2 separate regions of the Homo sapiens genome follow, and region 2 is linked to region 1. The links come from fine-mapping of genetic effects on gene expression. A gene starts in region 1. The other region holds a variant in brackets. All regions are shown on one strand. Distances are between the middles of the regions.

What was found. PIP is the estimated chance that this variant, and not a neighbour inherited with it, causes the effect. A credible set is the group of variants that fine-mapping cannot tell apart.
Region 2: its variant is the best candidate, but not a certain one, in a credible set for the expression of C8A in lung (GTEx, PIP 0.58).

What each region holds. Positions count from the first base shown.
Region 1 is chr1:56,851,949-56,856,948 of GRCh38, forward strand. C8A (complement C8 alpha chain) reads left to right here and starts at 2,849. Exons shown (of 11, transcript NM_000562.3): 1 at 2,849-3,030. The coding sequence starts at 2,954.
Region 2 is chr1:56,899,997-56,904,996 of GRCh38, forward strand. The region is part of intron 7 of C8A (complement C8 alpha chain); the gene reads left to right. Among named protein-coding and RNA genes, the nearest start is that of C8A, 48 kb to the left of the region's middle. The variant A/G (reference allele first, on the strand shown) is at 2,553.

The DNA.
Region 1 (5,000 bases):
GTGGCGTGATCTTGGTTCACAAGATCTGATGATCCTCCCACCTCTGCCTCCGAGCTCAGGTGATCCTCCCACCTCAGCCTCCCAAGTATCTGGGACTACAAGTGTATGCCACCATGCTTGGCTAACTTTTGTATTTTTTGTGGAGACAGGGTTTCACCATGTTGCCCAGGATAGGATAATGATTTTTAATCTCATGAGATTATTTTGAGAATCAAATGAGAAAATATGTCTAATCATATTCTGAAATAGTAATCTATTTTTAATTGCTTATTTGCTTATTCACTCAATCAACAACAATTTCCTATTAAAGATTTTATTGTTAAGTGATATGGATGATTATAAATAAGAATCAGACACAGAACTTACACTAAAGACATGTTCATTCTCCAGTTACGCCCTGCTCCCCTAGAAGAATATGAAACAAAAATTATAAGTGCTGCTAGCACATTTATGAGGTTGAGCTTCCAAGCAGACACCTTTTAGATGGAGCCACCAGCAAAAGATCCATGATGGATCTGACATTTGAGAAGATGCTTGGCAAAAAGGGAGGAGATGACGGATGAAGATAGTTCAGATGGAAGGCCCAGTGTGAGCAAAGCCACAGCAGCAGCAAAGCATGAGGAAGGTGAAGGGAACCTAGACTATGCTGTGGGGGATCATTGCAGAGTTGTGGTTGATAAGGCTGCAAAAATGGGCTGGGACTCATTTATGGAGGAATTTGGACTTTTACTCTTAGAGATAATGGGGGAGCCACTGCAGCTTTCTGAGTAGGACAGTGATGTTGTCAGAGATTGTTTCCTTGATGATGAATCCAGCAGTGCTAGAGAGGGAGGGTTGAAGTGAGAAGTGGAGGCCCACTAGGAGTGGGTAATGAGAGTTACAGAGAGATGAGGCCCTGATATGGATCAAAGACAGTGAGGATGAAGGAGAGAAGCTTGGCAGGAAAATATTACAGAGGAATATGGTGGGGTATAAGGGACCGTGCTGGGGGTGGGGTGGGAGAGGTGATAAAGGTTAAGGAAGAGTCCTAAAGCCATTGAGGGCTTGGGTAAGGAGAAAAGACATCAGAGACATTTAGAGAAGGAGCTGCTTTAAGAAGGAAGACCCGATTGCTTTTATTTCAGGGATCAGGGGAAGGCAGACCAGTTTTTCTGTGGGGCAGTGTTTCCCAGCCTAGGTACTCTTGATATTTTGGGCCAGACAATTTTTTGTCCTGGGCACTGTAGGATGTGTGGCAGCATCCCTGGCCTTTACGCACTAGGTGCCAGTAGCACAACTCCCCAAGTTGTGATAACATAAATATCTCTGAACATTGCCAAATATCCCCTGAGGGCAAAATCACCCCCAGTGGAGGACACTGTTGTAGCGGAGGTTGTCTCCTCATGAGAAAAGCTGTGGGAGGAGTGGGGGAACTTGAGCTACACTTCCCAGGGGGCTCTGTGGATCTGTTTCAGGAACTTTGACTACGGATGAGAAAGGATGGAAGTTGGTAGAAAGAGGTGGCCTCCAGATGTGCCATCCTGAACTGGCCCCAGGGTGTCCAGATAGAATACCCTCCATTGTCCTCCATATCTTCAGTGAAAGCAAAATGAAATGCTAGTCACGCTGGAATATTGTGGAGCAAACAGAAAGTGTGGTTTTCAAAGTAGGGTAGAACTGAGGCCAAGAGGACCAAGGAGTCAAAATGAAAAGAGGTAGGAGAAAGAGAGACACAGAAATCACAGGCTCCGGGGACTTCCCAGGACCCAGAATCCACATTTACTTCTGTCAAGTTTACCAAAATCTCTGAGAAAAGGGAGATGATAACAATTTGGTGCCTTTAAAAAAATCTCCGCATTTAAATCAGAAACACATTTTCTTAAGCATACAAGTCATTCATTAAAATTTCTCCTAACTTTGAGATCAGTAATGATACTACTGGACAGTCCTGCTAATGAGAGAATCTAAATATTCCCAAGGATATTGAGACAGCTATACAACCTTGGGCAAGTTAGTTACTTTCTCTGGGCCTCCATTTCTTCATCTTCATTAATTCCATCTAAATGGAATTAATAATTTCCATCTCATATCCCTGCTATGAAAATTAAATAAGACATATGAAATGCCTGCCACATAGTAGCCATTAAATTATTGTCTGTGTATCTATCCATCATCTATGTATTTACCTACCTATCTATCCATCCATCTCAATTTAATTTAATTTATGTCTTGAAGAGTAAGAGATTTTAGGCAGGTATGGCACCATTAGTCCTGATGTGTGGTTTTATTGACATTATAATTCTAGAGAGTGCTTCTGGAGATGTCTATTTAAGACATTTGGCCCCCTCAATAAACAGATACCCTGGATCTCAATGATGCCCAATGTCTGTATGAAAAGTGGAAAGTCCATTGAATTACACATATATTTCAGGATTTAGATGTTTGGCAACGTACAGTAGAACCTTCATGTAATGGTTAGCATTTCCTACATTTTTCTGAGTGCTTTATGTCTGAGTTGATATACCAATATTAGCCTTGTTTCAGTCTTGCAAAATAGATTGATCTGACCTCAGAAGTTCCAAGAGACACTGAAAAAGACCAGGAATTCTAGAACTGCATCTTGGTTTGGTTTTTGCCTCCTTTTGAAAATAAGACCTCTTTGCTAAGCTGGTATTAGTTAAATATCTTCCTTTCCTTAACCACACGGATATTGTTTTTCAAAAGGTCTAAAGGGCAGTGGCCTTTGGTGCCTGGAACACTTTTAGAGTATTTAGGTAATCAATACCCTGGTTACTATTTAACCATATTTGAAAGAGAATCAAGTGAGTTCTGTGCAAATCAATGTGTATCTGGGTGAGTTTCCAACATCAGATAGATCTTACAGGTCCCAGCCTGTAGACATCTTTTACTCCAATTTCCTGAATAGATAGCTTTATTCCTTCAAGGTAATATAGTGCGGTGGCTTCTGGCTGAGATGTTTGCTGTTGTTTTCTTCATCTTGTCTTTGATGACTTGTCAGCCTGGGGTAACTGCACAGGAGAAGGTGAACCAGTAAGTGGGCCATATGTCTCTGCAAAACTTGCACGTAGGAATCACCTGCTGGGGAACTAAGACACTTTTATGTTTGCAGCAGAGGCTGTGTTAGAATGGAAAATAACCTCTTTTCATGTTATTACTACTCCTGTGGAGGAGGATGGGACAGTGAAAAGACCGTGCACTTGGAGTCAAATTGGTCTATGTGTAAATCACAGCTCTAATGCTTAGAAGCTGAATAATTCAGGGTAAATCATCTCATCGGTTTGATCCTTAGTTTCCCTAGCTGTAAAATGAGAATAATAATACCTCTTCTATAAGAGTTAATGTAGATAAAATAAGATCCTGAATATAAAATGTACTCAGCTTATAGTAGACACTTAATAAATGACAGTTCTCCTGAGTGGTGCTGAACAGTTAACTTAACCCCTACTTTCTTATCTGTAAAAGAGCATCATAAGAGTGCTGTCTCATAGTTTTGGGGGAGGATAAAATTAGATAATGTGTTCAAAATCACTGTGGGGAAGGCAAAGGACTATAGAGATGCTGGGTCATTTGATTCTAAAAATGACTTTATCTTTTGCTATGGGATAATAGAGGGAGGTGATGTAGTTTCATATGTACATTGTGTTTTACCCATTCTATTTTCTTGAGATTTCCAAGCTTGCTTCATGGGTTTTTTTTTTTTGGTATCTTAATATTAAGTATTTTGTGGAGCCTAAGCAGTCCTTTATTTCACCTTCGGGATAGCTTTAAAGCAATCCCTGTCTCCCAAACATTAAAGATTTTAAATAGAATTATTTAATTCTAATTCTTGATAGATGATGCAATTTTGAATCATTAGTGCTTTTAAATGCTAGAGCAAGTGAGAATTCCTTTAAGTAACAGTTCAGAAGGGAGGAAAGCATTTTTAAAAGCAGTTAATTTGTAACTTGTATTTAAAGGAAATACAATTTTGAAATCAGAAAATTCATCTGTAATAATTAGAAGATAAAGGCAAGAGAACTGTGTAAAGGAAATCTCCGCCGAGATATTCTTAATTATAAAAGCTTATCATTGTAATCCTTTTTGAAAATGAACAAAGAGTCTTGATGTTTGATGAACTTATCAAACAAGACAGACCAGTGAAGGGGCAAATTTCAAGTCAAGGCAAAATGGAACCAATTAAATACTTTACAAAGTGCTGAAGGAGGAAATCATGAGGTCTTTGTATCTAATGCCAGTGTGTCTGACACTGACTTTGAAAGTGAAAAACTACATGGTGAAATGATTTTATTAGGTTCAAATTCTGGCACTGACATTCACTAGCTGTCTGATCTCAGGCAAGTTATTTAATTTTTCCAAGCTTCATTTTCCTTACCTGTACAATGGGAGGAAAGTAAGAACAAAAATTAAATGCATGAAAGTACTTAGATCAATACCTGTTACCTATTACCTAGTAATCATTCAGTGAAAGCTGTCACCAGTGCTGCTGTGTGATTGTTATTGTTATTTTTTGGTATTTCCATTCCCTTGATGGTTGACAATAATCAGACAAAACAAATTTATAATATGCCAATTGGCATGGATCTTTCTGATCAGTCAGAGATTTTAAACTTTATTTTTAAGTAATAGCACTCTTTTTCCCTGCAAAATAAAATTTCACATGAACCCTAACATTGAAAACATATTATATAGTTTTACATTTTAATGGTACACATTTATTTTATAAGTTCATGTTTAACATTTGCTTATTATAAAATCTTAAAAATTTGTTGAGAAAAACATTTTAAAACAATGGTGATGGAAGGAAGTTATAATCTTCAGCCTAAAAATCAGTGGATCTCTATTACATATTTTATACAAATTTATTTTATAAGTTCATGTTTAACAGTTGCTTATTATAAAATCTTAAAAATGTGTTATTTGAGAAAAACATTTTAAAACAATGGTGATGGAAGGAAGTTATAATCTTCAGCCTCAAAATCTGTGGGTCTCTATTACATATT
Region 2 (5,000 bases), 48 kb after region 1:
CTTGTCATGGCTGAAATTATGGAGAAGAGTCAGAGCCTCTGAAGAACCCTTATCAAGTAGGAGGAAGACATGGGACTGTAGTCAACATTGCCTCCTTCTTCTGCCTAGCTTCCTTTCTCTAAGCTTCTTTGTAGAATGAGGTAGTCAGGGAATGAGGAGTTGGAAGGCTCCTTTCAGGACTACCATTGGCTACACACCATGCATGATGAATGTTCCTCTGCAGAATAACAGTAGCATGATGAAATGGAGCATCCATTGTGTTTGAGTATGGCATATCTTGCTTCAAGACCTGATTCTTGGGCCTGTTAGTCCTGGGTGACTTTGGCAAGTTACCTAACAATAAAAGCTAGTATTTATTGAAGACCTAATTGTGCCAGACACGTTTTAGGAATTCACTTATAGAAACAATTATCATTCCCGTTTTAAAGATTGGGAGTATGAGGCAGAAAGCCATTAAATGAGTTACTCAAGTCACTACCAGAGAAGGTGAATGGTAGGACTCTGACCCCAGAGGTTACACTCTTAACCACCACAATTCCTGCTTTTTCCAATCTTAGCCTGTAAGATGGGTAAATTCTCCTTGTCCCAGAATATTGTTCAGAGTCTCCAATGAGATAATGCAGCTGAAAGTGCTTTATAAAATATAGCATATTAATCTAGCATGAGATATTACAAAACTGTGATTTGCATCTTCAATTAAAGAAAGACCTATGACTCCTAGAACGTTTTAGAGGCATTGTCTATATAGGCTAAAGTCAGCCAATCCCCAAGCCCTCCTGGGGGGCTTGGCACATGCCAGGCTCTGTGCAGAGATTTGCAAACCCGAGAGATGACTTAGAAGCTTGTAGTCTTATAGGAAGAACAGACCAAGAAATTGACAATTACTAGAGTGAGCTAAATACTATGCTGGAGAGAAGCACAGGGATACACTGGAACATAGACATAGGGCCCTTGGGGATTAAGAAAAGGCTGTCTGGAGCTCAGTGGGAGAAGCTCAATGAAAGAGATAAAGGGACTTTCTAGCACCTGCAAAGGCACTGAGGTACTCATTTTATTCTCAGGTGTTTTGGAAGAAGTGTGAGTTTTAAAGGATAAACAGAAACACAAAGGGGACAGGTGAGTTAGCTAACACCTCCCAACTAGCCCAGCCACACACTCCAATCATCTTTTCCAATGTGATGATAGAAAATAGACTATTAGATTCTCTTTCCCATTCTGAGGCTGTCTTTGGGGGCAACCAACATAGCAAAGCAATGTAGCACATAAATCACAGCAACATGAATGGTATTTGTTTTTTGCAAAGAGATAATGAACTACACCTGCTGTTTTCCACCTAATGCTTTTAATCTGAGGAATGACAGACTTGCAGTGTTCTGGCACCTTGGAAATCAAGCTGCCTGGTTCTGCCTGAGAGCCACAGACATGCAGAAGCTCCATGGAGGTGTGAGGGTGGCTCTCCCACCTGCGCCACAACCAAGACCATGTGGGAAACAAGTAGAAGACATGGTGGCCAGACTCATATCCTTTGGGCTCCTAGCCTGTCAAGTAGCCACAGAAACAGCTCACCTTGAGACCAGACTAGACTGGGAAGCAATCCAGCATCCCACTACCTCTGTACTTCCTTAGGGACCTCAACTGATTTGCATCTCTCTCTTTTCCACTCTGGAGTTTAAGTCACATTGGCTTTTCTGAGTAGAATCTTGCTGCTGAGGAAACAAGTCCTCTGCAGGGTCTCCCTCATCTCCCATTATACTCCTAGCTTTGTCTGGCTAATCCCTACTTGTTCTACTTGTCTCTGGCTCCTTCTTCTGACCCCCACAGATGCCTTCCCTGACCCTGCTGCCCTGTGTCAGAGTCCTCCTCGCACACTACAATAATTATCTGTTTCCTTGTCCATTTCCCCACACTTGACTCTCAGCTCATAGAGGTCAAGCACTCTCCTGAGTCATCTTTATTTCTCAACTAGCTCTAACACAGTAAAACGTCATTAGGTACTTATCAAAGTTGTCTCAAATGTTCTTAAAGTATTCTGCTGTGTTCTTAAAGTCTCAGGATCATGGCATTAGAGGTCACCTTAAAAGATCGCTGGTCTTTTCTACCCTTCAAACCCTCCTGTACCCTCACAGGCAAACAGCCAGCCTCAGCTTGGTCTCCTGCAATGGTGAGAGCTCACTGCCTGCTGAAACACCTCATCTCTGCTTGACTTCTGACTGTGATAATGATCGACCTTATGCTAAGCCTAAACTTGCCTTCCTGTAGCTTTTGGCCTTTGGGTCCTAGTTCTTGCCCTTGCAACCACACAAATAAACCTTATTCTTCTTCCTCAAGACAACTCTCTGGAGGGTTTAATCCAGTTCTACTGGTCTCTCTTAAAGATAAATCTTTTTTCCTTTCTTCAAGTAAATATCCTTAGTCGCCTCTAATATTTTCAAAAGGATGTGGCTTTGAACATCTTCACCCTCATGCTTGTTCTTCTCTGATCATTCCCTATTTTTAAATTTTATTATGGTAAAAATACTTTAACATGAAATCTACCCTCTTAGCCAACTTTA[A/G]CAGTACAATACAGTGTCATTAACTATAGGGACATGTTGCTCTCAGACTTTATCTTGTATAATTGAGACTTTATGGTCATTGATTAGTAATTCTACCTTTCCTCTTGCCCCCAGCCCCTGGCAACAACCATGATACCCTTTGATTCTATATATCTGACTATTCATATATCTAATATAAGTGGAATCAGGCAGTCTTTATCCTTTTGTGACTGGCTTATTTCATATAGCAGTATATCCTCAAGGTTCAATCGCATTGTCACATATGGCAGGATTTTCTTCTTTTTAAAGGCTGGATAATGTTCATTGAAGAAAATCATATTTTCTTATTTCATTTTTTAAAGCATTTTTGCACACAGCTCTGAGTTTCCCTAATCTATGGAGAGGAGAGTGAGATTACTTCCTCCTTCATTTTACTAATTATAATTTGTACCCTGGTTTCATTACCCTACTGAGTGGGGAGTAATCTAAAACTCTAAGGCCTTTTCTTTTGTTCTCCCGCTAAGCTGTCTATTTCTCACTGTGCTTATTCATTTGGTATTTTGTCTGTAGGGTAGGATGTTAAAGTTTTCCCAGTTCAGTCTCATTTTGCTATGCTTGGTGATATGGTTTGGCTGTGTCCCCGCCCAAATCTCATCTTGAATTGCAGTTCCCAAAATCCCCACGTCTCATGGGAGGAATCTGGTGGGAGGTAATTTAATCATGGGGGTGGTTACTCTCATGTTGTTCTCATGATAATGGGTGGGTTCTCATGAGTTCTGCTGGTTTTATAAGGGGGTTTCCCCCTTTGCTTGGCACTTCTTCTTGGTGCCATGGGAAGAAGGATGTGTTTGCTTCCCCTTCTTCCATGATTGTGAGTTTCCTGAGGCTTCCCCAGCCATGCTGCACTGTGAGTCAATTAAACTTCTTTCTTTTATAAAATCACCCAGTCTTGGGTATGTCTTTATTAGCAGCATGAGAATGGACTAATACACTTGGTCAGTGTATCCACCCAGCCTTTTGAGACCTTTTTGGATCCTGTTTCTTTAACTGACTTAGCCTTGGCTTCTTCTAGTTCTTATTCTGAGTAGATATGATGGAACTGGCTACTAAGTCCATATCCAAGGCATTGACAAAGGTATCAACTGAGACAGGATGCCAGAGTCCTGTGGCAAGCCACCAGAGATACTCTGTAGGACCACCATACTCAACATCTGATCCAAGATCCAATGAAGAGGAATCATCTGGGATACTTGTCTGAAAAACAGATTCCTGATTTCATAGAAATATACAATTAGAATTGATAGAGGTTGGGCCTAGTTACCTATATTTTTCAAAAGTACTCCAGATGATCTCAATGTACAGCCTGGGTTGGGATTGATCAACTCCAGAGCTCACTGAGTTCAAAAGCCCCAAATAAACTGCAGTTTGACCTGGTCCAAAGTTAAGCCTAAGGAGTGCAGCCTGATGGGATGAGGTGGAGCAATGGCAGAGGATTGTCTAGTTCCATGAATATAGTCAGTCTATCCACACTACACACCTATCTGGGCAAGTTCTTTATAATGGCTCCAGACCTTTCTCTGTTCCTTTCACCCCAGACCCCCACCTCCAACTCTTTCTGTTTATCTCTCTGGTTCTGCGTCCTGGCTTCCAATGCCAGTTTCAACTCCTGGATTTGGGTACCAGGTTTGACTTCCTCTGACCCGACCCCAACTTGTTAGTGTCATTTTCCCACAGGCTCACTGTAGACAGCTCTGATTTTGGCATCTCTTACAGCCTCTGATGAAAGACTCCTTTCTAGCCCTGGTATATTGAAACAAAAAACTCTCGGGATACAGATTGGTCTTCATTTAAGATATGGCCCCCAGCCTGCTAACTTCTCAAGGGCAGGATCTTACCTTTGCAGTTTTGCATCATATTCACATTAGTTATATTCTCAAGGTGTCTACATTGCCCAATATGCGATATGCTGGGGATGGTACACAGTAGGTGCTTACTACATTTTCCTCTCAGATGGCAGAATTCTTTTGTCTGAGGCAATAACTGAGATTAGTAAAATACCACAGGCTTCTAAACATAACAGACTTGAGCGTGAATCTCAGCTTCACCATTTTTTAACTGTATGGCCTTAGGCAATATAATTAACCTTCATGAACCTCAGGCATCTCAGCTATAAATGAAAAGTATGAGCTAAGTGTCTAAGAGTGCTTGGGCTCTCAGGTTCTATGATTCTTTGTAAGTCACAGACTCCCCTTGCTGGCTGGGACCCTCTTTGGGGTCTTAGATGGCAAATCTCTGCAGTCAAGTCATGCTTCTCAAGTCAGACTGGAATTCTCTTCTCCCAGCATCACGTGGCAGGCTGTTGCCAGATCTTTCATGAGCATAATCACACAACAGGCATCCTCCAGCCCCCATTAATCAGCCTGTCCTGTGGCTTTAATTCAGCAGCACTCCACCATCCACCTAAGTAAT